Homo sapiens: one gene and its partners. The protein of the gene in region 2 purifies or fractionates together with the protein of the main gene of each other region. This does not show direct contact. Each region holds a gene or a part of one and is shown on either strand. Other genes may lie near its edges.

Region 1 (3,592 bases), on a different chromosome or scaffold from region 2:
GAAGCATACTGCATCTCTATATTTCTAGTATTATACAACAGGATATCAAAATTCATAAGTTGTATTTGAAATGGAGATGATTTTTTAAAATTCAAACAATTCCTAAAAGCACCTCTATATTTCTAAATCAGGTTTGGGTAAATGTGATTAGCTTACAAGTACAGATTTCCAAGTACTTAGTCAGTTTAGCTCCTTATAAATTTGTAAATGACCTCTCATGAACAGAAGGACAAATCTATCATTCCACATGCTTGATGTAATGCACAAATCTATTTGTTACTTTCTAAGGTCATACCTGATATGCAAACTTTCTCCCAGTGTCACAAAATTCACACCACTAACACTAAAAATTTAACTGAATCACATAGGTAGATAAACCTTTATTTACAATCCAAATTTTTAAACAAATCATATGCATATTTATGTCCCCAAAAAGTAACTTATACTAAAAACACTAAATTTTAAATGAGACCTTTAAAACAGATATCAGCCACATTGGCTGGCGGAAACATTTACACAATATATGCTCTAGTACTTAATGCCAAAACTTATTTTTATAAATGTTTAAGAACAGTATTAGCTACCACATCGACTTACATATACAAACGTACATATACCTTCAGAGAAACATTAACTTCCCTCTGGCAATGTCACCCTTTTAAAAATCCTGGTAGAACAGGCCTGGTCTCTTTAGAAAGTCAATGACACAGGGGAAAAATAATAGGTGGAAAGTTTTACATTAAGAGACTAAAGAAATATAACTAAATGAAATGCACGAGCCTTGACTGAATCCTGGTTCAAAAACAAATATTTTGGGGAACATCTAATGTGGACTAGATATCATATGATACTGAATAATGTTTAATTATCTTCAATGCAATGACATTGTATTACATAAGAAAATGTCTTTATCTTAGGAGATGTTTGATGAAGTATTTAGGAATGAAGTGTCCTGATGCCTGCAATTTCCTTTAAAATGTCCAACAAAAAATAGGTAAAACAAATACGACACAAGGTTAACAATTACTAAATCCACTCCTCTGTGCATGTGAAATTTTTCCATCATAAAAATATGGGAGAAATTCTTATTGAGTAAGTTTGTGTTTCCCAGATCTCATGTCAGGTTTCAGGGCATTTTCCCAATACTCATGCTATAAACTACACAGAGAAACTTGAACAGAAAAGTTAAGATGTGTAACCCAAAGCAGGGTTAAGTGGAAGACATGGATGGGCTCGGCTAGTCTTTCTGGAACTGCAGTCTCTTGAACCACTACATATGGAAGACTATAAGATATACACAGGATTGGATTTTACCTGCAAGTGGACAGAGCCCTGGAGGAGTCTGCTGTCGTACAAAGGACAGAAATTCATACTCTGCCTGCTGCAATGTAATTGTACTCTCCTTCACTGCCTTGGTAAGGCCAGACTGCAAGAGAGAATCCCCAGCCCCCCACCAAAAACACATGTAAAGTCAGTTTTCAAAGGCATCCAGAAATGAAATTTCACTTTTAAAATGGGCAAATATAACCACAAATAGACCATTTTTAGAGCTCAAGTTCAAATTGCAACTGCCATCTTTGCACCATTTTTTTTTCTTCAAGAATCCAAGCCAACTTAGTTATGATCCTGACTGTTAATAGCATGTCCACAGTCAAAAAAGACGGTGTTCAAAGTCCAAGGATATTAACCTCTGGGAAGAAACAACTATTAACAGGAGAGCAGCAATCCCCCTTCTCTGAAAGTTGATGTCTAACCTTATCCAAAAGACTGACTTGAGTAATACTTGACAATCCACAATGCGTTCGCGACAGACTGAATGTAGGAGAGAAAAAAAAGAGGACATTCAGGAGAAGATGATCTCGAGAGGTCCCAAAGATGAAAAGTAAACAAGCAAGCAGTTTCCCAGGCTTGCCATGCAATCTTCTCTAAGCCTTTTTAAAATACCATCCAACAATGGTATCGGATTCAGGTGTGGGAGCAAAAAGCTTGCTACTGATCCCCAAAGCAGCAATCCTGTTATTTGGTAATGTTACCTTCCCGTGATGCTCCTTACACCAATCTGACATGCTGTCCAGCAACTCATCTGGTTGTTTTATAATCAGGTTAGGACCCTGTGGATGGGAAACGCCATCAGTCACCAAGAAACAACAGGAATAACCTTACTTTCAGAGGGAAAGCTTAAGCTGTTTTAAGGACTAAATATACATATCAGAGAAAGTAAGAGATAAGGATACTTTAAGTGTTCCCCCTTCATTCCAGCACTGTTCATTAAGGCAAAATAGAACATACGAACATACACACACCACTGAAAACTCTAATCCTACAAATAGATGACACAGATATCTATCAAGGGTCAGCAAACTATGGCCCCACACTTCAGCTATTTATTAATAGCTAGAAAGCTAAGAATGATTTTTACATTTGTAAAAGATTGTTTAAAAAAAAAAAAGAACATATGACAAGAACATATGACTGCACTCAAAGCCTAAACAATTTAATAACTTGCTCTTTCCAGAAAAGTCTGTCAACCCTTGATTATGAGTTCATTTTGAAAAGTGTCTAGGCCAAGCATGGTAATCCCAGCACTCTGGGAGGCCGAGGTGGGAGGATCACTTGAGGCCAGTAGTTCAAGACCAGTCCAGGCAACATAGCAAGACCTCATTTCTACAAAATTAAAAAAAAAAAAAAAAAAATTAGGTGGGCCTGGTGGCACACCCCTACAGTCCTAGCTTCTCAGGAGGCTGAGGCAGGAAGATCACTTGAACCCAGGAGTTCGAGGTTACAGTGAGCTACATGCCACTGCACTCCAACCTGGGTGACAGGGTGAGACCCTATCTCTTAAAAAAAAAAAGTATCTATATTGCAGGTGAAAAAAACAATTGCAAAACCATGTATGTATAGGTATGATTTCATTTACACTTGTTTTAAAAAAAACACGCATTTATATAAACATACAAAATATCAAGACAATACATAAACTTGGAGTAAGAAGGAGCAATAGAACAGGACAAAAATCCAATAGTTCACTACACACATACTTTGGATAGTTACACTGTTTTAACAGTATTTTTATATTTAAAAAAAAATTAAAGAGGTAATTGTTGATATCCAAAACACAAAGTAGCCCTCAAATTCTCAGCTCCATTTCATAGAACATCCAAGTATGAGTCTCTCAGATAAGTCCTGGCAGTTAACAGTAGCTACGGCATTAAAGCAAGTCACCTCAGCTTCTCCCTCTGTAAGATAGTGATAATAATAAACTGTACCCCTTCCCTCATAGAAATGTTAACAGGATAAAAGAAATTATAGATATGAGCTCTTTGAACTCTCTGATAGAAAAGTATTCCATAAATCCAAGGTATTATTACTACTAAGGTGGTAAAAACAGTTCACAATCACTGAAAGAAATGGCTAGAATTTAATTAAAATACGCCTGACATCCTACTACTAAAAAGGAGATTTAGCCAAACAAGAAAACTGGTGTTGGTAATCTCTGCGAAGAAACAAAAAATTTTGCTTGGATAACAGATGTTTTATGATAGTCACGAAGGAAAAAGAAAACCCAAACCTATGAAAATGAAAAAAAATACTC
Region 2 (4,172 bases):
AGGCTTTCTATAATCTTTAAATCCAGAGCCCTTACCATACTTTGGTGCCTGATCACCTCTCTGATCTCATTTCTCATTGTTTTCTCTCTCTCCCTCCCTCCCTCCCAACTGTATCTTCGCTTTGCTTCTTGAAGCTCCCATCTCATCAGCTTTTCTCTCCACATGGCATACTCTCCTCCAGATAGCCATTTAGATTGCTCCCACACTTCATTCAGGCCTTTGGCTCAAATATTACATCCTCAGAAAAGCCTCCCATGACCATTCAATTATTAAAACTGTGCTGCTTTCATCATTCTCTAATTCTTTACTCTGCTTCATTTTCTTCATAGCACTTATTACTACTTGAGATATATTTGATTATTTATGGTCCATCTCCCACATTAGAATGAAAGTTCCACATGGGCACAAGCTTTGTTTCAATGCGTTCCTAGTGCCTAGTTCAGTTCCTTGCGAGTGGTAGGTGCTTAGTGTATATTTAGTGAATTGATGGAAGGGAAGGAGACCAGAATAAAATTCATCATCACCAACCCATCCCTTTCTCCTTCCAACTTCCTAGTTATCTAGGCTCAGTTATCTGTCTGATCTATGAATTTTACCTCTCCTTAAGGGTATCAAATCAATAAAAAATCATGGTGGTATAAAGTATCATACCACACCCACAGGTTACCTAAACTCTAGTCATACTGAACTACTCCTAATTCCCAGTTACACCCTTTTATAACTTAGAGCCTTAGCATGCTGTTCTGCTGCCAAGAACAGCTTCCTCCCCAACCCAAATTCGTAGTCACCCTTTAAGTCATGTCACCTCCTCTGAGGAACTTCACTTGACATATATGCCCCATTTAGTACCAGTCACTTTCTTTTGTATGTACTCAACACTTTTCATATTGTATTGTAATCAAGTTTGTTTTTAAACATTCATCTCCCTCTGACTAGAATGTCAGTTCCTTAAGAGGAGGCTGTTTTATTCGTTTGTTTTTCCAGGCCACAGAATACTGCCTGCCCTATACCATCACCATTCTTTCTCATTTCTTCTTATGTTCATCCCTTTCTTGGTACTTTGGTAAGTCCAGTATCTTGGTGTAGGTGTTTATTTGTCATCTTAGACCTAGACTATCACAGTAGCCTTCTATCTTGTGTCTCTATGACTCTGTCTTTAAATAGAGTCACTATATACATGTCAGTTTTTTTCTTTAACATTTTAGCATTACCTTCAGTGCTCCCTGTGATATACAACATAAACACTTAGTGCTTTGGCCTGTTTTTTTGAACCATTATATTCTGGTCATTTCAGATTGATTTCACAATAAATTTTACAGTAAATTTTTTTTTACTACTAAATTTTACAGTAGTACTCACTTCATCAGGGAATACTACTGCTTTAGACAAATTGATGAACTTACTGTTCCTAAAATAGGTCTATGTTTTCTTATGTGTTTCACATCTCACACTGTTGATTCCTTTACCTGGAATACCTTCTTCCATCATCTTCTTTACTGATATATTTTCCCTTCTTTACTGATATCCTTTCCCAGAGCCTAGTTCAAATGAACCTTTTTGGTGGAATGGCTGGTACAGTAAGTAAGGGATTTATGAGAAATAGGGGAGAGAAGAAATTAAATTTTTCTTTAGGTTTGAAGTGAAACGATTTTGGATCCTTGGGAAATAGAACAGGGCAACTGGTGCAGTCTAAATCAGTTACTGTTTCCCCCTCAATCCAGGGTATGTAAGAGATGGGTAGAAGGGGTGGAAGAAAAAAGGGGGAAAGACACCAACTAATTTTCTCCTTTTCTCTCTTCATAGGTGGCAATTGGATATGGCTGAATGTGGCATCTTTTACAGTTAGCTGCCTTCCAAATATATGGTGAGGATGCAAAATACTTGTACAGCTCCTTCATGAAGGAAAATATAAATACTTGGTGATACTAACAGGGTACCATTAAAAAAATATAGTTAACTCTCACTGAACCCCAATCCAGAGACAAAGATAATCCAAACATATTCAGCACTTTAAAACTTTTAAACAGTAGCACATCTCCATCTTAGCAGCCTCAATAGTCTGGGATGTAGTCCCAAATAAAAATTCTATTACAAATAATTATGAGAGAATACCAGCCTTAAAACCATATGTTATATTCCTGAGATCTGAATCAGTCTTATTTTAGGCATGGTGATAGGACCTTAATAAAACATTTTCATATAGTCATATGTTTTATTTCTTGTGTAATAAACTATTTCATCATTGAAGATCTAAATTTTACAGCAAAAAATCCCAACAAAAGCAACCTGAAAAATTAGAGAATAGAAGATAAAATCTCTTATAATAAAGTGCAATCAATAGTTAACAATAATTAGACTGTGATGAACTTTGATAAGAGCAAATAAAATGGAACTTGTTCAAACTAAATATTTGTAGTTAAGCACTATTCTTTATGAAGGTATACTCACACAGGATCCAAAAATGCAGAAAAGCCACATTATGTCTTATAGGGAGACAGGAACTGGTTATAACTCTCATAGTCTCAAAGCTGAAATTTTAGAACTGGTAAAATGGTGATTTCTCGATTCAAATTTATTCAGTGGCAAAAAAGAAAAGTGATAACAATATTTTTGATATTATGATCTTCTGCTCAGGACAGTCCCCCTCCTTGGACAGCACTTCCCTCCCACCCAAATCTGAATTATTCTTCAACGTTCCTTTATCTATTTCAATCCCACTGTCTCTAACTTTATGCAATTAAGTATACTGTTCTTTTGACACAATCACATTCTGATGAGTATTTCTGCCAAATTTCTAACATGTATTTTATCTTGTGTTTCCCCACCCTGAATGAAAGGTCCTCATAGGCAAGTACAATGTTTTATAATTCTTTGTTATTATGCAGCACTCAGTATAGTGCTAGAGAATCTATTTCCAAAAAGTACTCCAATCTTCAGAATAAGTCAGAACAGATTTTAACATAGTTCTGAGTATGAAAATAAAATAATTCATTAGTTTGGTAAAAGAAATAAGATTAAATCTTATTTAATTTTATAATTGACATAATTGCTGCTAATATATTGAACAGGTAGTCTGAAAGTTTTATATACAGCTGTATTTTCTAGAATTATTGAATGAATGTTTGTGAGTCACTCTTCTAAAAATTTAGATGGATAGATTTTTAGGCTGTTAGTGCTAGAAAATAACTCAGAAGTTATCTCTAGTCCAACCTCCTTCTTTTGATGACAAACTTAGGTCCAATGTTTATTAACTTACTTGTCTTGTCATAGTTATTGCTCGAATTTATTCTAGAACTCATGTTTCTTGAATTCCAGGCTAATCTTCTTTTTACGAAATCATACCATCTCTTCTGGACAGTGGATACTAAACATATAACTGCTACAGGTAGACCTTATAATAACATAAAGTTATTTACTAAAATAACTCTCAGTGTGAAAAATTAGGAATTATAAAATCAAGCTTGAGTTAAGTACCACTTATCCCTATTTATGCTTATACATATTCAGATTACAGGAGAGGGAAGAGAAAACTCAGCAGAAATTTGCATTATGATACTTTTAAATACATGTATTACTTTTAGATAAACAGTGATCAAATAAAGTCCTTAAGTCCCCAGTGGAAAATGATAATATAAGAGACTGTATGAAAGCCAACTAGTATATCTGTTTGTTGTCACATACATTATTGCCTCTAAAGAGCTTAGTTACCAATATTTCCCTTAAGATGTCCTTTTCTGCCAGGGTTGTCAGCGTGGCACAAAGGCCTTTAAAAAAGGTCTTTTAAAGGTTGCTTTTAAAATTACCCTAAATCACAAGATGCAAGTTTACAGACCATTAAAATAATGTATAAAAATGCTGGCATTTACTTCAACTGATTAGAACAGAAGTAATTCTCCACTGTAATGCTAACAGTAGCAATATTTTCTCAGTAATGTGTTGTTCCTACCTTATGCAGGCGTGACCTAGAGATTTGCAAAACTCCTCAATCGCCAACGCTTTTGTACCATTCATATAAGAAAGATAGCCAGGGATGAAGATAATTCCTGGACTTTTGCCTTTTAGCTTCTTATAAGCCAGGTTTGGAAGGTCTGGTCGATTAAGGAATGAGAGTGACGTCTTTTGTCTACAAGCTAAACAAAGTACACAAAAAGTAAACTATGGTTTGTAAACTC
Region 3 (3,592 bases), on a different chromosome or scaffold from region 2:
CATTTGGAGGAGTGCCACACTGAGGTTCAACTGTTTACAGCGTTAACTGTGTTTCTGCCAGAAGTCCACATCCAGCACTACCTTCTCCAGACTGCCTCCTGGATTAAAAATTGATGCATTCGTTTGGAAGGAGCTTAGAAAATGTGGAAACTTCCAAACATCACTCTTCTTCTTTACAAAATCACTTTTGCTCATCCAAGAAGAGACAGAAGTGGAAACCCATTGCACCCTTCCTTACAGGACTGTCCCATTGCTCATGGTTAAATGTCTGTGTTGTTAAAAGTCATCTTAAGGATGATTTCATGTATACTGGGAAAATGGGAAAAGGTTAGCCATTAGTCTGCAAGAGAGTTGGGCTCCAAGAAGATACACGGAGGGCACATTTTGAATGAGTAAGAACATTGGAAAACCACCAGTAATTGTTTCAGACTGGATTTCACCCTCTCAGCCATTCATCAGTATTACAAAATGGCATCTCTGAAAGGAGCCAATTTAAATCTGCACCACGTTGCAAAATAGATCCTCAGAGTCCAATTGTGGGCACTATTGTAAGTTGCAATAGACTCACACAAACTTCCAAAGAAGGGCATTTGAGAAGGGCTCCCAAGCCCTTGGATGATGGAATGAGAGATGAGAGCAGGAAAGATGAAAAGAAAAGTACAGCTACAAACCCGGGAGCTAACACTTTACTGAATGTCACATGAACAAAATTGGGCTCTGGATCTATGAATGAAACCACGCTCAACCCTGGGCTCCCCAACGTGTTAAATCCAACTAAGAAAAATCCATACTCCTGCCCACTAGTGTATGAGTACAGAGTTTCTCAGAAAGCTGTGGGCCCTGGAGAAGAGAGCAGCTATTTCACAACCCTCAACAATCAAATGCAATGGGGTAGTGGAAAGGGCACTAGGCTGGAGTCGGCCGACCTGAGTTCTAGGCCTGGCTCGGTTACAACTGAACTTTCTGACCTTGTGCAAGTCACTTCATGTCTTTGTGCCAGTTTCCTCTTCAGTATAATGCAAGTGGAAGGAGGAGACTTCATCTAAATGATCTAGGGCCTAAAACAACTAGCTTCTAAGTTGGAAGTTCTGCCTGGTGAATATTAAATAACTAATAGTCCTTACTTACAGTGTACATATTTGTCACTTTTAAAATAATTTTGGTAATTTCTGCATGAGAAATAATATTTTTGCTCCTCACCCCGAAACTTCAGTTTTCACTCCCTACTCCCTAGAGTTCTTCCACATAACACTAAGTGCCTCTTTTCCTTTCTTTCTTATTTTTGTAAGCAACCTTCCCCAAACTAAGACTTGTGCTATTAAAAGAGCTTAGAACTTCCCATTTCCTTGCAAGGGCTAAAATTAAACTGTCCATTCCTTAGGGCCCAACATAACATCTGCCAGATGTCTTGGCATATCACACAAGGAGAGGAATTTTCTTCTAGCATTATCTACTCTCCTCTCTGTTTTCTCATAATCAATTAATAGGTCACCAACACCTAGCTAATGTTTCTCTCAAAGCCATCATACTCCATAAGTATGTGAAACTCACAAGATACTTGCTTTTACACACACTGATTTTTTTTTTTTTTCAGTTCACTGGATTTTAGCTTTCAGTCATGGAAATAGTCTCCCTCCACTTCTGCTGAATATACCAATCATCCCAGTCATACATTCATGTTAGATCCTTAGCAGTAAGAGTCCATTATGTATCTCCTATTTGTGACTGCGGCATTATGAAACAGCATCTCTGTTCTCCAATTATCAATTTAGAATATCTGATACAGTTTTGTCAATTTCATGATGCAGTGAAGTGTAAGTCTGAAAAAGGCACATACCATAAAGAAGATAAGTAAGGTTACCTTAACCAAGTAATTGCAACATCAAGGAATAATTTAAGACAGACTAGACCCTATTAAACTCCATCACACAGAAAAAAGGACTCTTTCCCATTGCAACTTTACCATTCCTTTCTTTCAGGAAAACCGACCACAAGTACTCTAAAGTCCATTAGTAGAGTTGGATTTTTTTTCTTCTGCTGTCTTCCGGAAGATTCATTAGGAAGAGCAGATAAGTTTGTTTTTTTTTTTTTCTCTAAAAGTTGTCTCCAACTCCAAAGAGTAAGGGGGAAAAAACAATTCCTCGGGGAATATGGTCAATGAATTAGACTGACATAAATCCAATATGAGAAATATTATGCAATGTGAGGATCCAACAAGAATTTTTTTATGGCAGGATGCATCATAGCTCGCAAATATTTCTCCATGATTTCTCCCTGTGATATATTAGAGCCATGGCAAAAAATTTGCATAATAAGCCACATGAACTTGTCTCATAAACAAAAATGATCTTTGAGCTTTGACATTAAATGAAAATGTCTGATTTAATACTTTTTATTTCTCTCATGGTGGTTTATTCAAAATACTTGTCTTAATTCAAATGGGTATGTCTAGAAAAATTCAAAAAACCATGTCCTTAAATATTATGGTGTTTGCCATGCTGGTGAAGGGCATCAGAGATGGATGTGTCTTAGATAACCAGTTAGAATGCATTTCCAAATTCCAAGATGCCTCTTAAATACCTATTTTTTCCCTTCCAGAAAAGTTCAACTCTAAGACGCCAACACATTTGGTTGCAAAGTAAAAAATGTGGAGAGTCAAACAGCTGGACTGACAACCAGATTGTCAGATGTTTCCCCCCTGCTGAAATGAGCAAATGAACCAATTGTCCTGCTATCAATAACAATAAAAAAAGATATCATGAAAGTTTGTTTCAAGATCAATATATAATGTACTTATGTTTACATAAACATACATGGTTAATTAGATGTAAAATTATCTGGTAATTACTTTTCCAAATAACTCTTTATCCATTGCAACTGAACTTCCCAGTTTGGACACCCAGTTTGGTGCATCCATTTATGCATTAGCAAATTTAAATATAATATTGGCGAAATTTCACTTAAGAGCAAAAGTAATGGTATCAAAAGATAATGTTCAAAAATGAATAATAAAAGTTATGATTCCAAGTAGGATTTTTTTTAAGTGCTCTTGGAGAGGCCTAGGTTTTTCATAAAGGAGCAGAGATCTAACAGAAGTATTTTTAAATAAGCATACACGTCAACTGAAACCATACATTTTTGTCTGCACAAACATGGTTTTACTTCATTGACCATGGACAATTATCAGCTAAAGAACCATGTATTTCCCCTCTCCTTTCACACCCCTCAGAAGAACAATAACCCTCAATTAATGACACAACAGTTTGGTTTGAAAAATGTGATGTTGTCATATACAGCACTGTGCATTTACTGAGTGACAGTGCTACCAGCTACTCAACAGAATATAATTACATCTGGAATCTAAAACCACTTCAATATGTACAAAAATATTTTAGACATAAGGAACTTTACACAAAAAAATCTGACACATAATGAGAAAGCAAAGCAAGAAAAATGCTGTTGTAAGTTGCTCACCAATGTGTTCCTTATTTCTGTTGAAGCTGGTACCTTTCTATATTTCTTCTTAGTTGAAAGCAAGGTCCAATTAGCCTCCTTAGAATATATTAACTGGTTCTGAATCTCCTCCAAGTTT
Region 4 (2,453 bases), on a different chromosome or scaffold from region 2:
TCCTATTTTTTAAATCAGATATATCCTGCGGAGCCACTAGCAGAATGTGCTAAATAGCTGTCTGGTGAATGAAAGAATGACCAAATGGTCCTGTATTTCCTTATCTAGATCATCTCTAAACACCTTCTAATGGTATGGTTTCAGACCTAAATCTTCCCACAAATCTTTACGGATGCAGTAACTTTTGTTAAATCCCTTCGCCCCAACTTTTCATCTACCCTCTGACAACAAAAGCTGGGAAATAGAGGGAAGCAAAGGAATCATGTACGGCTGATGGGATTTAGACAGCACAGAGCAAGTGGTTAGGTTTAAAGAACGTCATCCAAATACCCTGGCAGGAAACCTTGTATACTGACAGTTGCAATATGTGTAAGAAAAGAATGCATCCAATGGTATCCTCAATTAATTAATTAATTAATTAATTTTTGAGACAGTCTCTCTCTGTCGCCCAGGCTGGAGTGCAATGGTGCAATCTCAGCTCACTGCAACCTCCACCTCCTGGGTTCAAGCAATTCTCCTGCCTCAGCCTCCCAAGTAGCTGGGACTACAGGCACATGCCACCACGGCTAATTTTCTGTATTTTTAGTAGAGACAGGGTTTCACCATGTTGGCCAGGATGGTCTTGATCTCCTGACTTCATGATCCGCCCGCCTCAGCCTCCCAAAGTGCTGGGATTATAGGCATGAGCCACCACGCCCAGCCTCTCAATTTTTTTGTTTTTTCAGAAGATGGGAGGCAACATGGTAGGTTCACAATTAAAATTGTCTTGAAAGTATTTATTGTTTAATAATTCTTTCTCCCCTCAGCCCCATCCGGCCACTCTCTCTTTCTGCTTTTCTGATCATCCTAAAGGCTGAATACATCCTCCTCCTGTGTGGAGGACACGAAGCAATACTAAAATCAATACACTCGATCAGGTCTTCATCAGATACCACGTCACTGTGGGTAGAGTGCTAGTTTTCAACAAATGTGGTGTTCTTAGGGCTCCACAAGGTAGTCCTTTCTCAAGGTCGCTGGGCCACTCATGGAGTTGAAATGCCGCTGCCCATCTAAGTACAACATGGACTCTGAAACACAAGAAAGAGAACCTTGGAGAAACTTGTAATACCGTAGAAAACCATCATATCATCATACAAACACAAGACTACTTGGGAACACTGGGACAGAACAAGATACACTGTTGGGCCGGGGTGTGCCACATTCCCAAAGGAGCAGGCCATGACTCCTGTCCCCTTCCTTTGGCTGGATCAGTTTTTTTTTTTTTTTTTTTTTTGAGACGGAGTCTCGCTCTGTTGCCCAGACTGGAGTGCAGTGGCACAATCTCAGCTCACTGCAAGCTCCGCCTCCCAGGTTCACGCCATTCTCCTGCCTCAGCCTCCCGAGTAGCTGGGACTACAGGTGCCCGCCACCGTGCCCGGCTAATTTTTTTTTTTTTTTTTTTTTTCTAGTAGAGACGGGGTTTCACCGTGTTAGCCAGGATGGTCTCGATCTCCTGAACTCGTGATCTGCCCGTCTCGGCCTCCCAAAGTGCTGGGATTACAGGCATGAGCCACCACGCCCAGCCTGGCTGGATCAGTTTTTGACTACCAGTGGTTGCTTGCCCGCCTGGGGGCCACAGGCATCTTTGGCCTTCAGGGCTGCCAAATCTCAAAAGCAAAATCTCCTGAAGACATGCTCTTGTGCTGACAGGCATCAATACACTTCCTCCAATTCAAAAGGAGAAAAATGTCCTTAGAAGTTCTTCCCTTTGTTAGGGACAAGCAATAATCACTACTTACCTCCATATGTTTTTGGGAAAACCAATGGCACTTCTTTTTCCGACATGAACGTGAAATGAAAGACATTGGTGGTTGTATGCTGCTTCTCCTGCAGGGAGGCCACTTCACTGTGTACTCTGACTTGAATATAATTATTCTGAGTAAAGCATACCTAACAGATTATAGACACTATAATCAGTCAACTGCATTAGGAAGGGGAAAAAGGCAGTCATAAGAGAAAACAGTGGCTTTTTGATATAGAAACTTCTAGGCTCAAATGAAAAAAAAAAGTTGTATGTCATCTCTCATCACACACCTACCTGTGAAGAAAGAAAGAGCAATGAGCCAACCTCAACAGGTTTCTGAAACATGATGTCATCTACTGCTACCACAAACGGTCGAGAACCACTGTTGGGGGAAAGGACAGAATTTGGGGTATATTGCAAAATTCAGATGATCTCAATTGTTTCCTCTAACAACTAGCTGAAGCAAAATAAAAATGAACGAAGAATAAAGTTAGAGAAGGGGGAAAAGATCCTACCAGTGAGAAATGGTAAGAGACGCCATCGTGAGCAGATTAGGGCCAAAATAACTATATCTTTTCCTTTCTACATATCATCACTGTATTTTCTCAGTAGTTTTTTTAATGTATGAACTTACAAAGTCAGAGAAACAACCTTCTAAAATGAAGATCAA

What was found. Proteins that work in one complex are often made in the same cells at the same time.
Region 1: the proteins of ABHD10 (region 2) and REXO2 fractionate together in Homo sapiens (co-fractionation; one large-scale study listed by BioGRID). This does not show direct contact.
Region 3: the proteins of ABHD10 (region 2) and ZNF462 purify together in Homo sapiens (co-immunoprecipitation; 2 studies listed by BioGRID and IntAct, with this or other methods). This does not show direct contact.
Region 4: the proteins of ABHD10 (region 2) and ACOT9 purify together in Homo sapiens (co-immunoprecipitation; one large-scale study listed by IntAct). This does not show direct contact.

What each region holds. Positions count from the first base shown.
Region 1 is NC_000011.10:114,442,375-114,445,966, reverse strand, and holds part of REXO2 (oligoribonuclease, mitochondrial precursor), read right to left. Parts: intron 2,112-3,592; coding exon 2,034-2,111; intron 1,427-2,033; coding exon 1,315-1,426; intron 1-1,314. UniProt on the Homo sapiens protein: 3'-to-5'exoribonuclease that preferentially degrades DNA and RNA oligonucleotides composed of only two nucleotides. Binds and degrades longer oligonucleotides with a lower affinity.
Region 2 is NC_000003.12:111,981,742-111,985,913, reverse strand, and holds part of ABHD10 (palmitoyl-protein thioesterase ABHD10, mitochondrial isoform 1 precursor), read right to left. Parts: intron 4,131-4,172; coding exon 3,947-4,130; intron 1-3,946. UniProt on the Homo sapiens protein: Acts as an acyl-protein thioesterase that hydrolyzes fatty acids from acylated residues in proteins.
Region 3 is NC_000009.12:106,866,074-106,869,665, reverse strand, and holds part of ZNF462 (zinc finger protein 462), read right to left. Parts: exon of another isoform or gene 3,475-3,592; intron 1-3,474. UniProt on the Homo sapiens protein: Zinc finger nuclear factor involved in transcription by regulating chromatin structure and organization. Involved in the pluripotency and differentiation of embryonic stem cells by regulating SOX2, POU5F1/OCT4, and NANOG.
Region 4 is NC_000023.11:23,702,916-23,705,368, forward strand, and holds part of ACOT9 (acyl-coenzyme A thioesterase 9, mitochondrial isoform a precursor), read right to left. Parts: intron 2,166-2,453; coding exon 2,078-2,165; intron 1,930-2,077; coding exon 1,779-1,929; intron 1,068-1,778; coding exon 979-1,067; 3' UTR 1-978. UniProt on the Homo sapiens protein: Mitochondrial acyl-CoA thioesterase. Catalyzes the hydrolysis of acyl-CoAs into free fatty acids and coenzyme A (CoA), regulating their respective intracellular levels. Regulates both mitochondrial lipid and amino acid metabolism.